7 linked regions of the Homo sapiens genome follow. The protein of the gene in region 4 interacts with the protein of the main gene of each other region in a pairwise test. Each region holds a gene or a part of one and is shown on either strand. Other genes may lie near its edges.

Region 1 (3,500 bases), on a different chromosome or scaffold from region 4:
CCAGTTAACAGAAACTCTTTATTTTCCCTAACAATAATGCTAGGATCATCTTTACTATATTCTCCTCATCAGATCATGAAATTTTAACAAAACCTCCCAATTTACAGATGAAGTTAGTAAGTTAAGTGACTTCATCAAGATTACATGTAATTCAAGGCAAAGTCAACCAAGACTATTATCTAGCTCTGACTCAGCTCAGCTACCTTTCAACTATTCCAAGTGGTCTCTTCATCCCTTTACGTTGTCTGCAGTCTAAACACATGATACCAAAATACTTACCTCTATCTTCTCATATATTCTCATAAGTTAGTGTGACTAACCACTTTCAGGCGATCTAAATCTTATCCTTAAAAGGCATTTAAGTATCATTGCTCCTAACAATCCTTAATAACTAGTATCAATACATATGTGAAGATAAGAATACACGTCAAACACTGTAGCAAATGCTGAACATACAAAATTAACACACTCTGTTAGGTCCACGATGACAGAGACCAAGTTTGTTATTCACTATTATAACCCCTCCTCTTAGTAGCAGTCCCTGGCATACAATAAGTATTCAAATAACTGTTGTATATTACAAAATAAAAGACAATCCATAGTATAGGAGAGAAATGTGTGTACAGATAATCACATTAGCAGTTTTAATAAAGTATCATGAGACAACAGATAAGGAAGTTATTTTCTCTTGGTAAGATCTAGAAAGGCTTCAAAGATTTAATGATACCAAAATTAAGTCTTGAAGGACAAATAAGATTTCAACAGACATGGAGGCAGTGGGGTGGTGAGAGGAAGGTAGAAGGATTTAGATTAAAAAGGCCAAAGGCAAGAAAATACTGGCCATTTCTATAGAATTTTTAAACACAGGCTTACCTATTGTTGCTGCAAGTTCTGGATCAAACGTATCATCTGTGAACCTCAAGAGCAGGCTGAAAGAGATATTAAAAAGACAGGTTGGGAACTTGAATTTTCTAATCATATGATAAATGTGTTCATGATTATTTGGTCACAAATTATTAGATGCAGATAAAAATAACTGATGTAGGCCTGTTCCTAGGAATACTGCCTCAGAGCAGGTATACACAGAAAAATTAAATTACCAGAAAGGCAATTTAAAAATCCCAAGAGCAAAGTAGTTTACTATGAAATATATTCCCCGTGCTCTCCTACACAATCCCCCAAGTACAAAAGGTGGGGGTTTTTGTTGTAGTTGTTTTTTAACTGTTCTGGTATGTCCTTCTGAGAAAATGATATTAGCAGCATGTCATGCTTTAACTGACATAGATGAAAAGGGAAAAAATAAAGTCTCTTAGAATGCAACAAACTAGCTTTAAAAAATCTGATTGTGTAATCCACTCTGAATTCAAGCAAAACCAGAAATATATCAAAGCCGAGCATTCTGTAACACGCAGTACGGCTACTACCTAAGAGAAGATACAGTAAAAAGAGAGGTTAAAAGAAAGATCACAGGACAGAGTAGATAGACTCGGGCAAACACTAGGTAGAGTGTGTAAAACCAAGTAGGCAACTGGAGGCTACTGGAGGCTTTTAAAGAAAGTTAAGACAAGTACTGCTCTTTGTTTTGAAAAGTTAATACTAACAAAAAATGGAAGAAAATCAATGGAAGACAACCGCCATGGTTATGGCAAGAGAGAACAAAGGACTAAACCTAGGAAATGGTAAGAAACTAGAAAGAAAGGATAAAAGCAAAAGACACCAGATTAGAAGGGTACTCTAAGATTTTACATCTTCCAGAATTATTTTACTTACTATGAAGCAGAAGTGTCAGTTATTAGAAACTCTTCAAAAATAAAATCTAAGCTTTTGTTAAAGCCCTTGATTTTAAAGTCATTCAATCTTCCCTCATGTTAACTTCTGAAGTATAAGACTCTCCTAATTGACCTGTTTGCATGAATAAAATCAAAGAAACAGCCATCAGATATCTAAATTATAGAAAAATCTTATGACTCTTTCTATAGGTTGTGATTATTGCTGGTAGAGGTATGTTTTGTCCATAGAGTTTCTGCAAAACATAATGGCCTCCTGGTAGTTTCCAAACCCAGTGTCATTAAATATATTTGAACGATTAACTCTCCCTTACTTGGTTTTGTTTTCTTGTGTTTACCATAAAACCAGCATCATAAAATCAAAGTAAAAAAGAAGAGTCAAATTCTAGATTTATCTACTTAACATCTTGACTATATTTAGTTACTTGGAACATAGGTAACAATACTAGTAAGACTCTTAAAGACTACCTATAAAATTTTTCTTCTCTCCCAACATACTCAGTTACCCATAATTTAAGAAAAGATACATAATATCTACACGTGGTCACCACAGAAAATATTACTACAAAAACATAAGATTACCTTGTAGACTAGTTGTAATAATATCATAATAATAATACAATAATGATGATATTGGGTATTATTTATTGAACATATGGCAATGTGCAGACACAAAGCCAGAGGTTTTTCTCTCATAATTGCTAATCCTTAAATGGCCTTTGTTATTAACAGTACTTTGTAAGGAGAGGCAGGGAATTGGTGGCATGGTGTGAAGCAACAAATTTTAATACAGGCTCTGGGTATACATCAGATCTTAGACAGGGGTACCCTGGTAGCCCAAAAAGTATTCTAAATTCTATGTGTGCATTTTTCTAGGCAGAGAGTCCATTTCTCTATTAGACTTTGAAAGGGACAGAGAGTCCATTTCTCTATTAGATTTTGAAAAGAACTGACAATCTCAAAATAATTAAGAAGCACACTTTTTTTTTTTTTTTTTTAAGAGAGAGGGTCTCACTCTGTCACCCAGGCTGGAATGCAGTGGCAGAATCACAGCTCACTAATCCTCCCACCTTAGCCCCCCAAGTAACTGGCATGACAGGTGTGCATCACCATGGCCGGCTAATTTTTTTATTTTTATTTTTTTAGAGGCATGGTCTCGTTATGTTGCCCAAGCTGGTCTCGGACTCCTGGCCTCAAGAGATCCTCCTGTCTCAGCCTCCCGAGTAGCTAGGATTACAGGATGAGCCACTGCACCTGGCAGAAGCACCATTCTTATAGTATTGTATATTTACACCCTCATATTTTCAAAGTTAAAGGAGCAAAATGTTTCCCATGCAGAAGTAGAGATGGAAGGAGTAACTACCACCATGGCACTTAGATGTGACCAAATTTATAATAAACAGAGTGTGATTATAACTAATCTGCATTTTTTAAATTTACATATGAAATTCACCAAAAAAAAAAAAAAAAGGGAAGGCAAGGGGCAAAGGAGGGACAGCAATTTAGATAATAGGTCTCTCTAATCCCTTCCAGTTCTTGATATATTCTGCTACTCTTTACCTTACCAGGCCTAGCCACAGAATTGGAGTCTTACACATTTAGGGTCTGAGAGGTTTCTATTCCAACCCCCTCGCTTTTGAAATGAAGGCCTACAGCATTCAAGTATCACACACAAGGTCACACAAGTGGCAGCCCCAGTTTCATAATCCTGAT
Region 2 (3,626 bases), on a different chromosome or scaffold from region 4:
GAAGTTTCCCCAGAAGGACAAATGTCTACTTAGACCTTATAAATTTCCAAAATAAGAGAGTCAGAGCCAGAGGTGGCTTGTAAGTTGACTTCTGTTGAGATCTGACCACATTTGATCTCTTGTTTTAATTTTCCAACTAACTGAACTTGGAAGAAAACCCAAACCAAGTTTTAATCTGATGCCTAATCAGCCCGTCTCCAACCATCAGAGAAAAGGCTTCTAGAAAACCGCCTGTCACAGAGTCGGCAGCCCATTCGGATTAGGAGTTCCACTGAGGATGGGGTCTTTTTCATTGAGATCTTCCGCTCTTGCCCTGCGTGCACCCACATACGTGGTCATAGACTCCTAGCTTTGACTGTTGTTGAAGGGAAGGAGTTTTTTCTCCTTATTAAGCTTCCTTAAGAATTCAGAATATCTACACTCATGGCCAGAGGAAACCTTTTTCTTTCTCTTTCTTTTTCTTTTTCTTTTTTTTTGAGACAGTCTTGCTCTGTCACCAGGCTGGATGGAGTAGTGCGATCTCGGCTCACTGCAACCTCTGACTCCCAGGTTCAAGCGATTCCCCTGCCTCCGCCTCTCAAGTAGCTGGGACTACAGGCATGCACCACCACACCTGGCTAATTTTTTGTATTTTTTAGTAGAGATAGGGTTTCACCATGTTGGCCAGGATGGTCTCAATCTCCTGACCTCGTGATCCACCCACCTCAGCCTCCCAAAATGCTGTGATTACAGGCATGAGCCACCGCACCCAGCCAAAAACCTTTTTCTTATATGAGTTGGAGGGATGATATATGATGGAAGGGAGGGGAGAGGACAAGTGATAAACACCTGGAGGGTTGAGGGATACAGGGGACAACACAGCTGTGGACTTAGCGTGTTTGGAAAAGCCAGGCAGTTTGACCCTGCTGTGTGAGGACGAAGGCATGGAGGAGGAATGTCAGGAACAAGAGATGATCACCAGGTGTCAGAACTTGGAAGATTTAGAGCAAAGGACAATAGGAAAAAGGACTCACGGAGTTACTATTCACAATGCCAGTAAGAGACACGACCGTCACCCTTCTCTATTTTCACAGGCCCTAAAGAGCTGAAGGGTTACGCCCTGCTGCCAACGTGCTTAAAAAAAGACCGTTTCTGACTCTGTGCCCTGTCCCTGAGCTCGTGGGAGAAGATGACCCGTGGAACACTTGCCTGGCCCACTCAGAATCCACGGTGACCTCTCCGCTTGCCAAAATAACCGAAGGAAAGACCGTTCACCAGACTTGGCTCCTCTAAACATTTGCTGTTCAAACATGTTTTTGAATATACATTCTATAAAAGATTATTTGAAAGACAAAATTCATAGAAAATGGAGCAAAACTGTATAAACTGATTTGTAACTAACACTGGACCATTGGATCGATATTATATGCTGTAACCATGTGTCTCCGTCTGACCATTCTTGTTATTGTTAAAATGCAGAGGAATCTGGAAATATTTATATCCACGGAGTCCTTGGATCCAGTGCTACGTCAGTAAATAGCACCAGCATTTTGCAATTGCTGATCTGCTGAAATGTACACATTCTGGTCTAGTTTGGTCTATCTTTTAAAGCCTGATCTGGTGTGAATAATCAACTAGGAAATCTAAACTTGGATAACACGTGGTGAACAACTGCCTTTAGCTGGTCCAGATTAATCATTTCAAAGACATCCATTTTAGATCACAAGCAGGAAGTCGATAGTCTCAAAGGCACTTTGTTTCTCCCAAGTAGGCCACCAGGCAGCCTCTAGAGTTGCTTTACCCAAATCCTTCTCCAGCCATGACTTGGTGACTCTAAGCTTGCTCCCACCTGCCCCCTCCACTTCCCTCAGATGATGAGGAGCCAGGGCTAAGGGGGCAGCCTTCTCTCTTCCCAGTGATGCACATCCTTCACATTGGCTGCTTTGTTCTGGAATATGGATATCTCAGCCTGGATGCCGAGGAAGCTGCTGGATGCTTAATGGTGCTAGAGGCTCAAGTGTGTTTGAAACCAAGAGCCAGTTGTCCCCCATGCAGAAAGAAATCCTGTGTGAGCCTCTGGTATGAGAAATAAAATCTGCCAGTTTTATAACATTCACTTTCTGCCTCTGAGGAAAGATACAGGGAACAAAAATCAATTTGTACAGTCTTAATATTAAAAGCAGCTTGACTAAATACCTGATTTAAAAATAGAAGACATCCCCAGTCCTCATGACATACCGCAAATATCTGTGGGGTCCTGTTGAAAAGAACAAAATAAAGGAGCCCAAGGGGTCATTCTGTCTCAGCACCATCCAGCCTGGCACTTCTCTTCCCATATATCCATTGGATTTTTTTTTTTTTTTCCTAAACAAAGTTTTTACACTGAGCAGATGCTCTGTCATGATGGCGGTTGTGCAATTCTGGTATCCTCTAAATTTGTAAGCATTCATAAAACAGGAAAAAGTAAACTATCATTCGGAAGCACAGCCCATTCCTCCCATTTTTTGCAATGATGTCTGGATGTTATTTTAAACAGTGTGTCTGTGTGTTCCCAAATCCAGCTGGCCCCACCAGCTCAGATTCCATTTTTTTTGTGTGTGTGTGTGAAACGTAGTCTGCAACTCTGCCTCCCGGCAATTATACATGTGTCAGGATGTCAAAAAGCAATTCTCCTGCCTCAGCCTCCTGAGTAGCTGGGACTACAGGTTCCTACCACCACACCCGGCCAATTTTTGTATTTTTAGTAGAGATGGGGTTTCACCGTATCGGCGAGGATGATCTCTATCTCTTGACCTCGTGATCTGCCCGCCTCGGCCTCCCAAAGTGCTGGGATTACAGGCGTGTGCCACTGCGCTCGGCCTCAGATTCCATATTTGAACACCAGCTGATTGAGAGAAGGGGAATGAGAAGAGCTGGATGAGTTTAAATAACTCATTGTTCAGATTCCTGAACAGGAGTTGGGATAATGGCCATCTTTTCTTTCCTATCCTTTCTTCCCCCCTCACTGTGAAAAATAACAGTCCACCCCAAGTCATACACTGGACCCAGTGCCTGCGGGGACAGGACTGTGGGTTTCTTGGTCACACCTGTGTTGGTGCTCAATGCAGTGTAGACATGTTTTCAAATAAAACAAATGATTGTGTACAACAATGAGTCAGACTTTTGTTGGAAAACACAAGTCTGGGCCACACTTGGGAACATCTCCAGATAAGATTACAACTTAGGTAAATGCCTGCCTGTTGCCTTGCTTGAGAGTGGATTATAGATGGCCAGGGGAATGAATTCCACAGGAGGAAAACACACCTACACCTTTCAGCTAGGTCTGCCAAAGTAGAGAGGTCAAGTAGAAGCATGGGCATGGGAGACACGTGGCACCTGGGGGCTCTCTCCCTCTCTGGTCCCAAAGGGTTAATGAGGTTTTCCCTGATTTTTTCTGTTTTGTTTTGAGATGGAGTCTCGCTCTGTCGCCCAGGCTGGAGTGCAGTGGCGCGATCTCGGCTCACTGCAGCCTCCACTTCCTGGGCCCAAGCAATTCTGTCTCAGCCTCCCAAGTAGCTGGGACTATAGGCGTGCACCACCACACCCACCTAATTTTTGTATTTTTAGTAGAGACGGGGTTTCACCACATTGGCCAGGATGGTCTTGAT
Region 3 (3,500 bases), on a different chromosome or scaffold from region 4:
AAGTTAATAAAAAACAAATAGGCATCTCCTTCTCTATAAAGTCCAAGGAAGTAACTCACATGTGTGCCGATGTTGACCACCAAATGTTTTTCCACTTCAGGGCTAGCAAGGCAAAACCAGCAGGGTCCTGGAGGCTGAGCTTCATGTAAAAGAAAGCCAGGTGTTACTATGGTCCAAGCACTACAGCATATAATCACCCCACAGAACTCAGCTTTGTCTGATTTTTATATCCTGAAAAGACTGGTATACAACACTGCCACAATGGGCTGAGCCTGTGCTCCTCACTACGACCCCCTATGAACATTTTCAATGAAATTAAACTTCCATTAGAATTTGTAACCAATCCACAGGTAGGTAACCCACAAGTGCAAAATCACACACTGACTAAAGTAGCACATAACTGGCAATAGGCTACAACAAAAGAACACTGAACTGGGTGTCAGGAGCCCCAATTAAAGCCCCAGCTATGCCATTAGCCATGACCCTGGAAAATTTACCCTCCCAAGGTCAGCTTCTTGTGTGAAACAAAAAGATGAAGAAAGAGAATCTCAATGAAACACTCTTAAAGTCCTTCCTTCGAGTTTGATCATTCTATTATTTTATGAACCCATATTGGTTTTGGAGGCTCTTCACCTCATTATGTTTTACAGACACAAAGGAAAGGTGCTTTTTCCATAGTACAGGAAGCGCCTCAGAACAGCCTCGAAGTCAGGCCATTCTTATTTTATTTTTTTTGAGACGGAGTCTCGCTCTGTCGCCTAGGGTGGAGTACAGTGGCGCGATCTCGGCTCACTGCAAGCTCCGCCTCCCAGGTTCATGCCATTCTCCTGCCTCAGCCTCCTAAGTAGCTGGGACTACGGGCGTCTGCCACCACGCCTGGTTAATTTTTTCTATTTTTAGTACAGACGGGGTTTCACCGTGTTAGCCAGGATGGTCTCGATCTCCTGACCTCATGATCCGCCCACCTCGGCCTCCCAAAGTGCTGGGATTATAGGCGTGAGCCACCGCGCCTGGCCCGTTATTTTATTTTTTTGAGACAGGGCCTTGCTCTGTCACCCAGGTTGGAGTGCAGTGGTGCAATCTTGGCTCACTGCAATCTCCGCCTCCTGGGTTCAAGCGATTCTCATGCCTCAGCCTCCTGAGGAGCTGGGACTACAGGTGGGTGCCACCATGCCTTGCTAATTTTTTGTATTTTTAGTAGAGACAGGGTTTCACCATGTTGGCCAGGCTGGTCTCCAACTCCTGGCCTTAAGTGATCCACCCGCTTCGGCCACCCAAAGTGCTGGGATTACAGTTAGTGTGAATCAGTTTCCAGCATTACATAATTCTAGATAAAAATTCATAAAGCTCTAGTTTCTGAATCTGAAGCTATAAAAAGAATATCAACTTTTTTTTTTTTTTTGAGATGGAGTCTCACTCTGTCACCCAGGCTGGAGTGCAATGGCATCATCTCGGCTCACTGCAACCTCTGCCTCCTGGGTTCAAGCAATTCTTCCACCTCAGCCTCCTGAGTGGCTGGGACTACAGGACCGTGCCACCACACCTGGCTAATTTTTGTATTTTTAGTAGAGAAGGGGTTTCACTATGTTGGCCAGACTGGTCTCAAAATTCTGAACTTGTGATCCGCCTGGCTCAGCCTCCCAAAGTACAGGATTACAGGCATGAGCCCCCACACCTGGCCAAGAATATCAACGCTTTTATCCCAATATGGGTATATAAGCAACAGAAGACTGCCTTTTTAGGACAAAGAAAATTGCTTTAAATGGTAATTAGCAAAAGGAACTCATCACTCTCAAGTAGATGGGCTAAAAATACAGAGTCCAAGAAGTATATAAAAGCATCACCCCTAGAGAACCATACCTATTTATGAGACAGGAAAAGAGGGAGCTATCTTGTAAAACTGGCTATTGCTATAACAAATGTTGACAGGGATGTGGAAAAGCAGAAACCTTCATACATTGCCAGTGGGAATATAAGATGGTGCAGTCACCACACCTGGCCAAGGCCATGTTTATATTTTATTTTTACTGTTGGTCCTAATGACTCATTGCACAATTCTCCCCTGCCAGAAGAGGCTCTCTTAGCAATGCTGCTTTCCAAAGAAAAGCCAAAATAACAGTTACTGTTCATAGAAGAAACCTCTGGAATAAAGGTACTTACGAGGTTTGCGAGGCTGCTTTGGATGAGGAGAAGATTTGCTATCTCTACCTGTGGATGAACGCTTCCTTCCCTGCTTTTCATTTAAATCAAAGAAAAACTGACAGGCTGATTCTTCCTGGAATGGCCAAAAGCAGAAGATTAAATGTTATTCAACTAACCTTTAGATAAGTAGCCGACCACTCACATACAAGGGAACATTCCTGCCATGCCATACCTATCTTTCTTCTCAGTCCTTTCTGCACACTCTAGGGAAGCAAAATATCTTCCCAGTTCTGATGCCTGAAGTCTCAGTCATACATCAACACTTATCCAAACTACTGCCAAATTCATCTCTTTGGAAAAACGAGTTAAAATGCAAGTTATAAAGTAATTCTTGCCTAAAGCAGAACATGAACCCACCTAAATTCTCTTTTCTTTTTTCTCTCAACAGGGACATAGTGTAGTCATACAATTTCACAGGTCAAACAAGCCTAATTCAGCCTTAAGAGATGAGAAGGCTGCTTGGAAAGAAAGAAAAGTCTGAGAAAGCAGACCGTGCATGCTAGTAAGGGAACTTGACATTCCTTGCTTTAGTGGGGAAAAAATTAATTTGAGAAAACTCTGCTATTAAGAAAATTTCTTCAGAGTGAATCTTATTTTCCTACTAGCAATCATCATAAAATCACAAATTACATTGCTATGAAGCTGCTAGAGCCTTGCCTAAAGAGCTAAGAACAGATAATCACTTTAGACAAAGACTTTACAAATAAAACTGTAACCCCAAACGTCTGAATCCAGTTTGGACAAAGAAAGACCTAATGTATCAAACTGTTAACCCCAAACTACAATAAAAAACACTAAGCTTAGCTGAAATCTACTAAGATTTTCTAAACATCATCATGATTTCCCAAGGGGAAAAAAAAGATTTAGATTCTAACGATTAAACTTGTCTTATGTACTAAACTATAACTAGGAAAAGAACACATATAAAAATGCCAACCCTCAATCAGAACATACCACAGGGGCAAGAATTTGCTTTCCTATGGATGCTTCCTGCCCAGATTTTCTGTAAGGGTTTTCAGTGACATCCGGAGGCTGTTTTACCAGTTCTGCTGCATCCATTAGCTTCATGGGAACAATACTGAACGCGTAAAGATACTTTAGAGAAAAAGAACATAATGACATTAGGGGAAATACTATTTACCCAACTGTAATCAACCTATTTTACTGTGAAGATTTCACAGAAAACATGTGAAACTCAGTAAAATTAAAAGAACAGCAACCAGCCCATCCATAGCTCAGAGAGTAAACAGTAAATCAAATGCCAATTCAGTGGCCTCTGCAGGGGCTCACCAAGGGTT
Region 4 (3,500 bases):
AAACTGCCATGTGAGATTATTGATGCCTTCTCTTTGGGTTGTTAATAACAAATGGTAGCTCAATTCATGTCAAGTCCTTTTAAGCCACAGCTGACAAGGCATCTCCTTCTCCATCAATGACCCTCCTTGGGTCAATGCCACATCTCCAACCTTGGGTGGAGAGGTGAAAGCTCAAGGCTCTAGGCCAGTGCTTCTCAACATTAATGTGCAGAGAAAACACCTGGAAATCTTGTAAAAAGGGAGGTTCTGATTAGTCTAGGGTGGAACATGCCAAACAAACTTTCATACTTTTAGTAGCAAAACACACTTTAAGTAGCAAAATCCCAAGTCTCGGTTATTCTATGAGATATTGCAATATCCTTCTAATAACTTCATCTTTTTGCTTAAGCTGGGTGGATTTAGGGTTGTCTCCTGTAATGAGAAAAGACCCAAGTGATACACTACTATAGTCTCCATGGGTCAAAGAAAGGCCTCCTACCTCTTGTCTTGCTGTTTCAGCCTCTGCTTCTGAGGGAGGAAACTGAACGCCTTTCTTAACCAGGTCGAGGTATACTTCTTTGACTTCGCTTACATCCACACCTCCTGGGAAGCCCTGTGACCAAGTCTGAATTCAAGAGATGAAAAAAGTTCCAGAGTTAAAACAGCAACAAAACCAAAACACAATTCTTTTTTTTTTTTTTTTTTTTGAGACAGAGTCTCACACTATTGCCCGGGCTGGAGTGCAATGGCACAATCTCTGCTCATTGCAATCTCCGCCTCCTGGGTTCAAGCGATTCTCCTGCCTCAGCCTCCTGAGTAGCTGGGATTACAGGCGCCCGCCACCACGCCTGGCTTACTTTTTGTATTTTTTAGTAGAGACGGGGTTTCACTATGTTGGCCAGGCTGCTCTCGAACTCCTGACCTTGTGATCTGCCCACCTCGGCCTCCCAAAGTGCTGGGATTACAGGCGTGAGCCACCGCACCCAGCCGAAAACACAATTCTTAAGCTCCTGATAGAAAATAAGAGATCAATAATTATGTACCCCACTCAGAAAGAGAAAGCTACTTTTGAATGCCATGGGCAAAATGCTCATTTTCAAAGGCTAGGAAAATATAAAATCTTTTAAATCAGATTTCCATGCCTCAAAATCTTGAAGAAACCCTAGGATATATACTATCAATTGTTTTTTGCTGCTCTGAATCCAAAATTAATAGATTCTAAAATAACATCAGTAGCTCTTTTTCCAAGTAACCTTGAACTAGTCAGTTAGCTGGAAGTTTCCCTACCTGCAAAGTGAACACACAGATCACTGTCTTTCCTATTTGACACAGATAAAATAGAAACTGAGAGGAAAGCAGGGAAATGACTACAAATTCTTCAGAAAAAGGGCACCATCCAATGCCAAAAAATTATTATTACACAGAAACTAAAATAGCAAAAATGCTTTTCTAGCTCAATCCTAGATATATAAAAGATAAGTGAAACAATCAGGAGGTAAGCTATTAAATCCCTAATCTTAGAAATTTACCATCCCATGAGGTATACAACAGACTTACCTTAATGAAATTCAAGATTCTATTCTGAATGTCTAATGGCAAGTTGTATCTGGGATTCAGTAGCTTAACTAAATTCTCTTTAACAAATTCCTTCTTCACAATCAGAGACTGGAAACTTGGACCACAGTTCTGCACACACATGTCAATAAGCTAAATTAGAAAAAAAATTAAACATTATATTTATCTGGCAAAACCACCTCCTAAAAATGTAAGGGAAAAACTGCTAAATAATGGGTTCCATCAGCATCCTAATTAACAAACATAATTTAGTATCTACTAAAATATATGGCAAAATGTTAGGTTCTGGGGATATGTGGAAGTATGAGCATAATGTAACAGTCTGGAGGACAGACTTATTGAGGAGTCCCAGCACATCCAGAAGGGCATTAACACCAATGCAGAGTACTAAATGCTAAATGCTGAAGGGACGTGCAGGCCAAACATATGAGCTATGGATGGAATAATATCTGTCCCAGTTTACCCAGGGTAGCACAGGTATATTCCCAATGTCCTGTTTATTAATGATGACACACCCTTTCACTTTCAAAAATGTCCTGGTTTGGATGATAAATTACACAGTCACCCCAGCTATAGGCCCTTATAGGCAAGAGTGATTATTTAGGGCTAGGTGGTCTTACAAGACTTTTGGAAAAGGCTAACTGGAAGCTGGGCTTTGCAAAATGGCTAAGAACAGTAAAAATGAGTATAGAGCTATATTCTAGACAGATAAATTGTATGAAAAATATATAAATGTGGAAAAATGGGTAAGTTATGAAGGGGGAGATAAGTATTCTGGTCTGTCTCTAGTAGAGGCATCCTGATATAGGTAAATTGGGGACACTGGAAAGATAGGGTGGATAAAGTCCGTCCAGGTTGTAGAGAAGTTTGTGTGGCATGCAAAGGGTGTGGATATTATCTTGAAGGCACTATGAAGTTATGGAGGGTCTCTGTTAGTTTGTCACCATCACACCTGTACCCTGAAATTGAGGAAAAGGTTAATGTGTGCAAAGTAATATTCTGGATAGGTTGTCAGGCAGCACTCTGCAAAGGCAAGCGGAGGGAGAAGAAACCTGGAATGATAGAAAGATCCAGTAGCAATGCACTATTTCAGGCATGTTATAGAAAAGGCCTAAACTAAGATGATGTGGGTACAAGAAAAGGAGGAGTCATGACACCATTATGAAGGAAGAACTTTGAATGACAGTGCTGGTCAAAAAAGGAAGATGACTGAAAGTTAAGTGACTCTCATTCTGCATGAGGACCCCTGTGACGGAAATTTGGAAGAGGGGGTGGTATGGCTGGTCTAGGTGTAAAAATGATGGGCTGAAATTTAGATATTTTGAGTTCAAAAGATAAGGGGCATTTAAGTAGGTGTTTAGCAGTGAGCTGGACACACACAGCTATAGTTCAAGAGAGTGAAGGGCCAAAAGTGAGTCATCAAGGCTGCCTACAATGAGAAGAGAAGAGGAAGGGCTGAAACACTGGGGTTCACCTACTATACGGGCCAACGAAAATCCAAGGAAGGCAATCAAAGAGTAACTGACAGAAAATGAAGCACAAAATCAGGAATACATAAGGCACCCCTTTGGTAAAGTCAAAAGAAAAGTTTCCTGGAGGATGGGGTGTTATACAGTTAAGAAGATGGTCTGAGGAACATCAGTTCCCTTGAAAAACACATTTGCAATAAAGCAACATGAGCAGAAACTTGACTAAGAAAGAATGAACCAATACTGAAGAACTGCATGCAGGAAGTAGATTTCTAAAAGTAAACTAAAAACAAAATTAAATCTTTAGTTTCCATGCTACCACCTCAAATTAGAAAGGTCATAGAAACCATAGCATGACCAGGATAGGTATAATCATCTCTGCAGAATAGAAGCCCTGAAAATGGACTTCATGCCATGCTTTGTATTTTTAGTCTCTCTTTAATGGCAATACATAAAGCGGCAGCATATAGCGTTTAA
Region 5 (3,500 bases), on a different chromosome or scaffold from region 4:
GCTTCTAAGAACTAGAATTTGCTTTTTTCCCTCAAATATAAAGCATTATTATCATAAAAACATTTAAAAACATAGTAAAAAATCAAGAAAAAAAATTACCCAAAATCCTACCATTTCAGAAATAATTGTAAACTTTTTACGCATTTCCTACTAATCTATTTTCAATGCACGCTATCTCCAAAAATACATACACACTAAAATGATCCCAAAACATTGGGTGACTTAGTTATTATGAAATGAAGAAAATTTATTTTCCATAATTTAAAGGCACACTAGATTCTATCAGCATGCAGTCTACAGTGAAACAAACATGAACCATCACTATATGCAGGTATCCCTGCATCTGCTAATAGAAATTTGTTTTTAAGGCCAGGCACGATGGCTCACACCTGTAATCCCAGCACTTTGGGAGGCCGGGGCAGGTGGATCACGAGGTCAGGAGATCGAGACCATCCTGGCTAACACTGTGAAACCCCATCTCTACTAAAACTATTTTAAAAATTAGCCAGGCATGGTGGTGGGCGCCTATAGTCCCAGCTACTTGGGAGGCTGAGGCAGGAGAATGCCGTGAGCCCGGGAGGCGGAGCTTGCAGTGAGCCAAGATCACGTTACTGCACTCCAGCCTGGGCTACAGAGCGAGACTCCGTCTCAAAAAAAATAAAAAATAAAAAAAAGTAATTTATTTTTAAAAATGCCAGACACGGCCGGGCACAGTGGCTCATACCTGTAATCCCAGCACTTTGGGAGGCTGAGGCGGGCGGATCACGAGGTCAGGAGATCGAGACCATGGTGAAACCCCGTCTCTACTAAAAATACAAAAAAAAAAAAAAAATTAGCCGGGCATGGTGGCGGGCACCTGCAGTCCCAGCTACTCGGGAGGCTGAGGCAGGAGAATGGCGTGAACCCGGGAGGCGGAGCTTGCAGTGAGCCGAGATCACGCCACTGCACTCCAGCCTGGGCGACAGAGCAAGACTCCGTCTCAAAAAAAAAAAAAAAAAAAAAAAAAAAAAAAAAAAAAAGCCAGACACATCAGTCTGTATACAATCTCAAGAATTCTGGAATTCTCATGTATTGCACATTCCCTATAAATCCCTATATTCTTCTTGCCACTGCCAACTCTCAAAGGTGCTTCAGGAAGGTGATGAACAATAAAAAAAAAAAGATATACTTAAATTGACAGATTCTGTTTTTTAAAAACTACTCAGTAAATACATAGTTCAGTAACTGTTGTGAGACAGGCTATACTACGACTTGATGTTTTTGTAAACACAGAAAATTTTTACATAAAGTTTACAAACTTATAGGCAAATTTCTGAATTTATTTTTTTATTTTTATTTTTATTTTTTTTGAGACGGAGTCTTGCTCTGTTGCCCAGGCTGGAGTGCAGTGGTGCAATCTCGGCTCACTGCAAGCTCTGCCTCCCGGGTTCACAGCATTCTCCTGCCTCAGCCTCCCGAGTAGAAATTTCTGAATGCTTTAATCTTGACAGTGATTTTCAAACACATTATTCATTCTGATAGTATCAATATCAAAAAGACAGGAATACCACTTTGTAAGTGCTAATGAATTAATGTTTTCAGCACCAGGCACAGTGAAGCATGCCTGTAACTACAGCTATTTGGGAGGCTGACATGGGAGGATCTCTTCAGTCCAATATTTTAAGACCAGCCTGGGCAACATAGTGAAATCCTGCTTCAAAGAAAAAAATAAATAATAATGTTTTTAGGTAATGATCACTGATAGCTGCTAACATCATAAAGAGAGAAAACAGGGTATTATCTGTCTTCTGATGGAAGACACATCACTACCTATGAAGTAGTCTTAGGACAGGATGAGGGGAGGGGAAACAAACCTGAATCTACCTATCAATACAGAAAACAGGAAAGAACCAACTTGACACTAACACATTGCAGTCAACAAAATCCATACTGTAGGAAACCACAGAACAAATGTATAGAACAAATGACCTGGTGTCTTTAAAATATAAATTCCAAGGAGCAGGGGAGTTGGAGGAGAAGCCTACATACTGAGAGAAATCAATGCTTCCTAATGTGTGGCCCTTGAATAATTTTGAACTAAAAAACTGCAATAAAGTAATAAAACTATGACTTTGATGAGACAACTGAAAAGTCGAACACTGGCTGGTTATTTGATATTAAAGAATTATTATTAGTTTGTGAAGTATTAATATTATAGTTATGCTTAAAAAATTAACAATACTTATACTTCAGAGACATACTAAAATATTTATAGATGAAGTGATACAGTGACTGTGATTTGTTTCAAAATTATTTGGATTGAGTGGAAATGGGTGGAGGTATAGATGAAACAAGACTGACCATGAGTTAATTACCAAAGCTAGTAGACAAGTACATGGGGTACATTACACTGTTACATTACTTTCATATATGTTTGAAACTTCCTATAACAAAAATTTTTTTAAAAGATGGGGAGGAGGAACGGAGAAACAAAATAGACTTGTGGACATCAGGTACTTTGAGGAACCTATAAATGTCCTTATTTCCACTGATTAAATGACTCCATTCCCAAAAATAGGATTCAAGACAGTAAGTGATCAACCTCTCAGAGATATTCAATGTATGATTTACCATTACTTCCAAGTTTTTAGAAGCTGGAGATGACTGTTCTTTTTGCATTCCTGGTACATGTTAGATGGCTGCTTGGTAGAGTAGGAAAGCTTAAAGTTTTTTCAGCAGGATTCATGATGAATTTAGCAAACGGCAGTCAGAATTTAAGTTCCTAATATGCCTTAGATACCCAAAAACATAGCATAAACATTCTTTTTTTTTTTTTGAGATAGTCTTGCTCTCTCGCCCAGGCTATAGTGCAGTGGTGCAGTCACTGCTAACTGCAGCCTCAACTTCAACCTCCTGGGCTCAAGTGATCCTCTTACCTCAGCCCCCCGAGTAGCTGGGATTACAGGCGTGTGCCACCACACCCGGCTAATTTTTGTATTTTTTTTTTTAGTAGAGACAAGGTCTCACTGTGTTGCCCAGACTGGTCTCAAACTCCTGACCTCAAGTGATCCGCCTGTCTTGGCCTCCCAAAGTTCTGGGATTACAGGCATGAGCCACTGTGCCTGGCCTATATTCTTTTTTTTTTTTTTTTGAGACAGAGTTTGACTCTGTCACCCAGGCTGGAGTGCAGTGGCATGATCACAGCTCACTGTAGCCCCAGTCTTCAGGGATCAAGTGATCCTCCCCTCAGCCTCCCAAGTAGCAGGACCAAAGGCACACACCACACTCCTAATTTTATTATTATTTTTTATAGAGACAGGGTCTCACTATGTTGCCCAGGCTAGCCTCTAACTCCTGGGCTCAAGCGATCCTCCCACCTCAGTCTCCCAAAGTGCTGGGAGTGCCCAGCCCAACATCAACATTCTTCTAGTCCAAGAGTATCACTATAAATCAAAGACAATACTTATAAATTTTAAAATTAATAAAATATTAAAACATAAACAAACCTTTTGGTATCGATT
Region 6 (3,500 bases), on a different chromosome or scaffold from region 4:
AATTTATCTGTGCACAACATAAGATACCTAGAAATTGGTCCACCTAAGAAAGCCATTCATATATTATAGGTATAAAGCAAAGGCAGGAACTTGTCAATTCTTATCCTCTTCATGTGATACTTTTTCAGCACACATTTTTTGAAAACGCTGTGCCAGGCACAGTGGCTCACACCTGTAATTGCAGAACTTTGGGAGGCTGAGGTGGGTGAATCACCTGAGGTCAGGAGTTCAAGACCAGCTTGACCAACCTGGAGAAACCTCCGTCTCTACTAAAAATACAAAAAATTAGCTGGGGGTCATGGCATATGCCTGTAATCCCAGCTATTTGGGAGGCTGAGGCAGGAGAATCACTTGAACCCGGGAGGCAGAGGTTGTGGTGAGCCAAGATCATGCCATTACTTTAGTCTGGGCAACAAAAGCGAAACTCCACCTCAAAAAAAAAAAAAAAAAAAAAAAAAAAAGAAAGAAAGAAAATGCTGTATATTCAAAGATAGGAAAATCTGACTAGATTAGAAATTTAAAATGCTATAAACAGTGATTTGGATTATCGTTATAGACCACTTTATACATGCTGACATATTTGTATTTTCAAGAAGTTTGAATATGTCAGTGGACGTCTCTCTGTGATTGGCAATCCATATGAAGAGCATGAATTGTAATCAATTGAACCTTTATAGAACTCCAAGAGAGGAGAAGATAGCAAAATAAAGGAGACATTCCTGACCTCAAGAAGTAAAGGAACACAGCCATAAAAGGAAATTAGGGCTGGGCACGGTGGTTCATGCCCGTAATCCCAGCACTTTGGGAGGCCGAGGCGGGCAGATCACCTGAGGTCAGGAGTTTGAGACCAGCCTGGCCAAAATGGTGAAACCCCATCTCTACTAAAAATACAAAATTAGCCAGGCTAGGTGGCTCATGCCTGTAGTCCCAGCTACTCAGGAGGCTGAGGCAGCTTGAACCCGGGAGGCGGAGGTTACAGTGAGCCGAGATCGCGCCACTGCACTCCAGTCTAGGCGACAAGAGCGAAACTCCATCTCAAAAAAAAAAAAAAGAAAAAAAAAAGGAAATTAGGTCCTGATACATGCTACAAAATGATGCAGGGACCCTGAAAACAACACGCTAAGTGAAATAAGCCAGACACAAAAAGCCAAGTATTACATGATTCCAGTTACATGAAATATCTAGAATAAGAAAATTCACAGAAACAAAGATAGATTAGAGGCTACCAGAGGCTGGGGGGAGGGGAAAATTGAGAGTTATTGCTTAATGGTTACAGAGGTTCTGTATGCGGTGATGAAAACATTTTGGAAAGATCACAGTGATGATTGCACAACACCTCAATGTAACTAATGTCACTGAATTATACACTTAAAAATGGTTAAAACGGGCCGGGCACGGTGGCTCAAGCCTGTAATCCCAACACTTTGGGAGGCTGAGGCAGGTGGATCACGAGGTCTGGAGTTCAAGACCAGCCTGGCCAAGATGGTGAAACCCCGTCTCTACTAAAAATACAAAAATTAGCCAGGCACAGTGGCAGGAACCTGTAATCCCAGCTACTCGGGAGGCTGAGGTAGGAGAATCGCTTGAACCAGGGCGACAGAGATTGCAGTGAGCCAAGATCGAGTCACTGCACTCTAGGCTGGGTGACAGAGTGAGACTCCGTCTCAAAAAAAAAGGTTAAAACAACCTAAATGTAAGACCTAAAACTATAAAACTCCTAGAAGAAAATATAGAGGAAAAACTTCATGATATTGGATTTGACAATGATTTCATGGATATGACACCAAGTGCGCAGGCAACAAAACCAGAAATAAACAAATGGGACTATATCGAACATGAAATATTTTGTGTATCAAAGCATACAATCGACAAAGTGAAAGACAAATTACAGAATGGGAGAAAATATCTGCAAATCATCTATCTAATAAGGGGTTAATATCCAGAAAATAGAGGCTGGGTGCGGTGGCTCACATCTGTAATCCCAGTACTTTGGGAGGTCGAGGCGGGCGGATCACCTGAGGTTGGGAGTTCGAGACCAGCCTGGCCAACATGGTGAAACTCCCTCTCTACTAAAAATACAAAAATTAGCCGGGCGTGGTAGCGCATGACTGTAGTCCCAGCTACTCAGGAGGCCAAGGCAGGAGAATGGCTTGAACCCAGTGGGCGGAAGTTGCAGTGAGCAGAGATCACACCACTGCACTCCAGCCTGGGCAACAGAGCAAGACTCCATCTCAAAAAAAAAAAAAAAAAAAATCCAGAAAATATAAAGAACTTCTATAATTCAACAATACAAAATCAAAAAACTTGATTAAAAACTGGGAAATGGCCTTGAACAGACATTTCTCCAAAGATAATATATAAATGGCCAACAAGCATATGAAAAGATGCTCAACATCACTAGTCAGCAGAGAAATACAAATCAAAACTACCACAGTGAGGTATCTCACACCCATTAAGATGGCCATGAAAAAATAAAAAGTATTGTCAAGGATGTAGAGAAACTGGAACCCTTGTGTACTACTGGCAAGACTGTAAAATGGTGCAACTGCTATAGAAAAAAGTATAGGGGTTCTTCAAAAAACAAACAAACAAATAAAAAAACACTATTCCAGTGGCCTAGATTCTTTCAAAATAATAAAAATTAAAAACAGAATTATCACTTGATCCAGCAATCCCACTTTGGGGTATATATCCAAAACAACTGATATTGTTCCAGAGGCTGGAATACCTATTTGCACACCTAGTCACATTAGCACTATTCACAATAGCCAAGAGGTAGCTGCAACCCAAAAGTCCATTAGTGGATGCAGTCCATAAACAATATGATATATATATATACACAATGGAGTATTAGCCTTAAAAAGGAAATAAATCCGGTCACACAGTACAACATGGATGAGTCTTGAGGACATTACACTAAGTGAAATAAGTCTGTCACAAAAAACAGACATGGTATGATTCCACTTACATGATGTTATCTAAAGTAGTCAAATTGGTAGAAACAGAAATAATGGTGGTTACCAGGGGCTAGTAGGAGGGGGAAAAGGGGAGCTGTTGTCCAACAGGCATAGAGTTTCAGATACGCAAGATGAAAAACTCACAGATCTGTTTTCCAACAGTGCGAATGTACTTAATGTCACAGAACACTTAAAAATGGCTAAGTTAGTAAATGTTGTGGGTTTTTTTTGTTTTTTTTTTTTCTGAGACAGAGTCTTGCCTTGTTGCCCAGGCTGGAGTGCAGTGGTGCAATCTCAGCTCACTGCAACCTCCACCTCCTGGGCTCAAGGGATTCTCCTGCCTCAGCCTCCCAAGTAGCTGGGACTACAGGCACATGCCACCACACCTGGTTAATTTCTGTATTTTTAGTGGAGATGGGGTTTGACCATATTGGCCAGGCTGGTCTCGAACTCCTGACCTCGTGATCCGCCCACCTCAGCCTCCCAAAGTGCTGGGATTACAGGTGTGAGCCACTGCGCCCAGCCAATTTTGTGTTTTTAACC
Region 7 (4,165 bases), on a different chromosome or scaffold from region 4:
TCTTTTGCCTCACTGGTTAAATTTATTCCTAAGTACTTTACTCTTCTTGATAGTATTGTAAATTGAATTGTTTTATTAGTTCCCTTTTTAGATATTTACTTCATAGCATATAGGAATGTAGCTGATATTTTTGTGTTTATTTTGTATTCAGCAACTTTGTTGAATTTGTATATTACCTCTGTGTATGTGTTTGTCTCCCTCTCTCTCCCTCTGTATAATATTTGGCGTTTGCTACACATAAGGTCATGCCATACGTGAACAGAGGTAATTTTACTTTTTTTCTGTTTTTTTTTCTTTCTTGCCTAATTCCTCTGATTAGAACTTCTAATACTATGTTGAATAAAAATGGCAAATGTAGGCATCTTTGCCTTGTTCTTCATAATAAGACATCCTGTGATTTTTAACATGCATTATGTTGTATGTTTTGGCAGCATTGTTGTTTTTCTTGCAAATAATTTAATAGTTTAACTCAAAGCTTCTAGGATGCTTTCATGTTGTTAGGTGAATCATTCCATGACTGCCGAATAAGGAATTTTCCAAGTGAATCTCAGAAATTTGTGTTTTAATAAGTGCTTCAGGTGATTCTGTTGCATACTCAAGTTTGAGAACCATTGTCCAAGGGGCAAAAGCTGCCATTGCCAATTGCTCTTTTTTATCTGAGAGGGGGCAGGATCCTCCTGGTCCACTGCTTGTGGATGCAACTTATTAAATGAAATAAGGCCATGAGTACTCTAGGGCCCAATCTCTGCTTTTTGTTTTGTTCACTCCTGTTTAAAATTTCACTCAGGGCTCTCTTTGGAAGAATTGCACTTACCTTTGCCATCCGGGGCTGAGGTTTCATTTTCTTTGGTTATTCCCCAGGCCAGTACCATTTGCTTTTTACTTTCCAGAAGTTCTGTAAAGATTGTTGATGGTACCCTTTCTTAGCTTTTTTTTTTTTTTTTGGTCTTGATATAGTCCTATTCTTCTAAAAAATCTTTTCATTTGTCTCCGTCAGACTTTGATGGAGAGGAGGGGAGATATTGTTTACATTTGTTAAAAATGGCTTTTAAGTTAAATTCTAACTAAGGGTCTATTAGGAAATAAAATTGCCTTCTGACTCCTTTTGATTTATTTTGCAGAATTGCATATATCCAAAGCTCTGGGTAATTATTAAACATTAGAAGTATAGAACAAACAGGCCAGCCAGGCCCGGCGAGGCCGCGGCGGGTCCGGCGCCCCGGACCTCCGGACCCGGAGGTCCGGCGCCCTGGTTGGCGCCCTGCCCCCAAAGTCCGTCCTCCCCGTTAGGTGGCGCCCAAGGGGAGGGGACAGCCGGGCAGGCAGGAAGCTGCGGCTTAAAAGGGCAACCCGCGCCGGACCCTTCCTTCCTAGTCGCGGGGAGTCTGAGAAAGCGCACCTGTTCCGCGACCGTCACGCACCCCTCCTCCGCCTGCCGCGATGTACCGCTACCTGGCCAAAGCGCTGCTGCCGTCCCGGGCCGGGCCCGCTGCCCTGGGCTCCGCGGCCAACCACTCGGCCGCGTTGCTGGGCCGGGGCCGCGGACAGCCCGCCGCCGCCTCGCAGCCGGGGCTCGCATTGGCCGCCCGGCGCCACTACAGCGAGTTGGTGGCCGACCGCGAGGACGACCCCAACTTCTTCAAGATGGTGGAGGGCTTCTTCGATCGCGGCGCCAGCATCGTGGAGGACAAGTTGGTGAAGGACCTGAGGACCCAGGAAAGCGAGGAGCAGAAGCGGAACCGGGTGCGCGGCATCCTGCGGATCATCAAGCCCTGCAACCATGTGCTGAGTCTCTCCTTCCCCATCCGGCGCGACGACGGCTCCTGGGAGGTCATCGAAGGCTACCGGGCCCAGCACAGCCAGCACCGCACGCCCTGCAAGGGAGGTATCCGTTACAGCACTGATGTGAGTGTAGATGAAGTAAAAGCTTTGGCTTCTCTGATGACATACAAGTGTGCAGTGGTTGATGTGCCGTTTGGGGGTGCTAAAGCTGGTGTTAAGATCAATCCCAAGAACTATACCGAAAATGAATTGGAAAAGATCACAAGGAGGTTCACCATGGAGCTAGCAAAGAAGGGCTTTATTGGTCCTGGCGTTGATGTGCCTGCTCCAGACATGAACACAGGTGAGCGGGAGATGTCCTGGATTGCTGATACCTATGCCAGCACCATAGGGCACTATGATATTAATGCACACGCCTGTGTTACTGGTAAACCCATCAGCCAAGGGGGAATCCATGGACGCATCTCTGCTACTGGCCGTGGTGTCTTCCATGGGATTGAAAACTTCATCAATGAAGCTTCTTACATGAGCATTTTAGGAATGACACCAGGGTTTAGAGATAAAACATTTGTTGTTCAGGGATTTGGTAATGTGGGCCTACACTCTATGAGATATTTACATCGTTTTGGTGCTAAATGTATTGCTGTTGGTGAGTCTGATGGGAGTATATGGAATCCAGATGGTATTGACCCAAAGGAACTGGAAGACTTCAAATTGCAACATGGGTCCATTCTGGGCTTCCCCAAGGCAAAGCCCTATGAAGGAAGCATCTTGGAGGTCGACTGTGACATACTGATCCCAGCTGCCACTGAGAAGCAGTTGACCAAATCCAACGCACCCAGAGTCAAAGCCAAGATCATTGCTGAAGGTGCCAATGGGCCAACAACTCCAGAAGCTGATAAGATCTTCCTGGAGAGAAACATTTTGGTTATTCCAGATCTCTACTTGAATGCTGGAGGAGTGACAGTATCTTACTTTGAGTGGCTGAAGAATCTAAATCATGTCAGCTATGGCCGTTTGACCTTCAAATATGAAAGGGATTCTAACTACCACTTGCTCCTGTCTGTTCAAGAGAGTTTAGAAAGAAAATTTGGAAAGCATGGTGGAACTATTCCCATTGTACCCACGGCAGAGTTCCAAGACAGTATATCGGGTGCATCTGAGAAAGACATTGTGCACTCTGCCTTGGCATACACAATGGAGCGTTCTGCCAGGCAAATTATGCACACAGCCATGAAGTATAACCTGGGATTGGACCTGAGAACAGCTGCCTATGTCAATGCCATTGAAAAAGTCTTCAAAGTGTACAGTGAAGCTGGTGTGACCTTCACATAGATGGATCATGGCTGACTTCCTCACTAACCTCTTCACGTGTAACTTCTGCAGACCTACCACAAGTTTACATGTAACCACAGAAATCCCTTTCTCTCCTGACTCATTACTAATGGATACCATTCTCAACAAGTCAATCCAAATCAGCCCGTTAAGGAGAAAGAAATTAATATACAAGCTGAGTGTGAAAGTAGAAATCACCTACACCAGAGAGCTATTTTGGTATTTTGCCTTTAAATAAAAAGCCTCCTCCATATGGCTGTGCAGCCTTGCTCTGTGGCTTTTCCCAGCACAATCAGTGCTAGTGCTGGGGAAGGGACAGTCAAGAGCAGTCAGTTGCTTACTTATTTTGCTCTGGATGAGTCTGGGACACGCTGTAACTTTAACACATTTAAGAAGAAGGTGTGTGGCCTTTTCAGAAGGTGGCATGGTCCTCAAGTGAGTTCTTAGTATTTTATATCAGCAAAATAACTCAATTTTGCAGATTGCAAACAAATATAAAAGCTGTTTCTGTTTATGAATTTTATTCTTTTAGAATAGAATAAGTACATGCTGCTGTAATAAAATTGCCTTTAATCACTTAACAAGCCTAACCTTGACTCAGTGAATGCCTATAAAAATAATAAATGAAAAAAAACAGTATTTTTATATCATAAAAGTTTCATTTGTAGCTTATCATTCACGTATTGTTGTCCAGCAAACATTAAAAGCCCTGTGGATAATTACGTTATCTTCATACCTGCAAAACGGTGGAGGCTATTTTCGTTAAAACTGTCAGAATTCGCTGTTATAATTATGACACATAGTCCAAAGAATGCAGTAACCTTTTTATCATGTTAACTAATTGTTCTCTTTTGAAGATCTATGGTTGACTAATTAAACAATAATTCAAGTAGAGTGTCCCAGAAAAAAACCACTTGGGCTCCCTGTTTGGAGTCTGGCTGGCTCTGAGCATTGCCAATGGCCCCTACTCACCTGACTTTGTATCCTCTTCTTTTAGAGGCTTTGCATTCTGCACCCAGCTTCACTAACAGTGGGCTGAAACCAACCT

Evidence for each region.
Region 1: the proteins of TOM1L1 (region 4) and RAB18 interact in a two-hybrid assay, tested with the Homo sapiens proteins (one large-scale study listed by IntAct).
Region 2: the proteins of TOM1L1 (region 4) and PDPN interact in a two-hybrid assay, tested with the Homo sapiens proteins (one large-scale study listed by BioGRID and IntAct).
Region 3: the proteins of TOM1L1 (region 4) and CWF19L1 interact in a two-hybrid assay, tested with the Homo sapiens proteins (one large-scale study listed by BioGRID and IntAct).
Region 5: the proteins of TOM1L1 (region 4) and UBXN4 interact in a two-hybrid assay, tested with the Homo sapiens proteins (one large-scale study listed by BioGRID and IntAct).
Region 6: the proteins of TOM1L1 (region 4) and CELF1 interact in a two-hybrid assay, tested with the Homo sapiens proteins (one large-scale study listed by BioGRID and IntAct).
Region 7: the proteins of TOM1L1 (region 4) and GLUD2 interact in a two-hybrid assay, tested with the Homo sapiens proteins (one large-scale study listed by BioGRID and IntAct).

The regions. Positions count from the first base shown.
Region 1 is NC_000010.11:27,507,304-27,510,803, reverse strand, and holds part of RAB18 (ras-related protein Rab-18), read right to left. Parts: intron 930-3,500; coding exon 874-929; intron 1-873. UniProt on the Homo sapiens protein: The small GTPases Rab are key regulators of intracellular membrane trafficking, from the formation of transport vesicles to their fusion with membranes.
Region 2 is NC_000001.11:13,614,832-13,618,457, forward strand, and holds the end of PDPN (podoplanin isoform a precursor), read left to right. Parts: intron 1-1,073; coding exon 1,074-1,080; 3' UTR 1,081-3,126; downstream 3,127-3,626. UniProt on the Homo sapiens protein: Mediates effects on cell migration and adhesion through its different partners.
Region 3 is NC_000010.11:100,243,639-100,247,138, forward strand, and holds part of CWF19L1 (CWF19-like protein 1), read right to left. Parts: intron 3,298-3,500; coding exon 3,157-3,297; intron 2,276-3,156; coding exon 2,161-2,275; intron 140-2,160; coding exon 60-139; intron 1-59.
Region 4 is NC_000017.11:54,910,852-54,914,351, reverse strand, and holds part of TOM1L1 (TOM1-like protein 1), read right to left. Parts: intron 1,687-3,500; coding exon 1,537-1,686; intron 605-1,536; coding exon 479-604; intron 1-478. UniProt on the Homo sapiens protein: Probable adapter protein involved in signaling pathways. Interacts with the SH2 and SH3 domains of various signaling proteins when it is phosphorylated. May promote FYN activation, possibly by disrupting intramolecular SH3-dependent interactions.
Region 5 is NC_000002.12:135,748,355-135,751,854, reverse strand, and holds part of UBXN4 (UBX domain-containing protein 4), read right to left. Parts: coding exon 3,486-3,500; intron 1-3,485. UniProt on the Homo sapiens protein: Involved in endoplasmic reticulum-associated protein degradation (ERAD). Acts as a platform to recruit both UBQLN1 and VCP to the ER during ERAD.
Region 6 is NC_000011.10:47,546,633-47,550,132, forward strand, and holds part of CELF1 (CUGBP Elav-like family member 1), read right to left. Parts: intron 1-3,500. UniProt on the Homo sapiens protein: RNA-binding protein implicated in the regulation of several post-transcriptional events. Involved in pre-mRNA alternative splicing, mRNA translation and stability.
Region 7 is NC_000023.11:121,046,245-121,050,409, forward strand, and holds GLUD2 (glutamate dehydrogenase 2, mitochondrial precursor), read left to right. Parts: upstream 1-1,365; 5' UTR 1,366-1,440; coding exon 1,441-3,117; 3' UTR 3,118-3,850; downstream 3,851-4,165. UniProt on the Homo sapiens protein: Important for recycling the chief excitatory neurotransmitter, glutamate, during neurotransmission.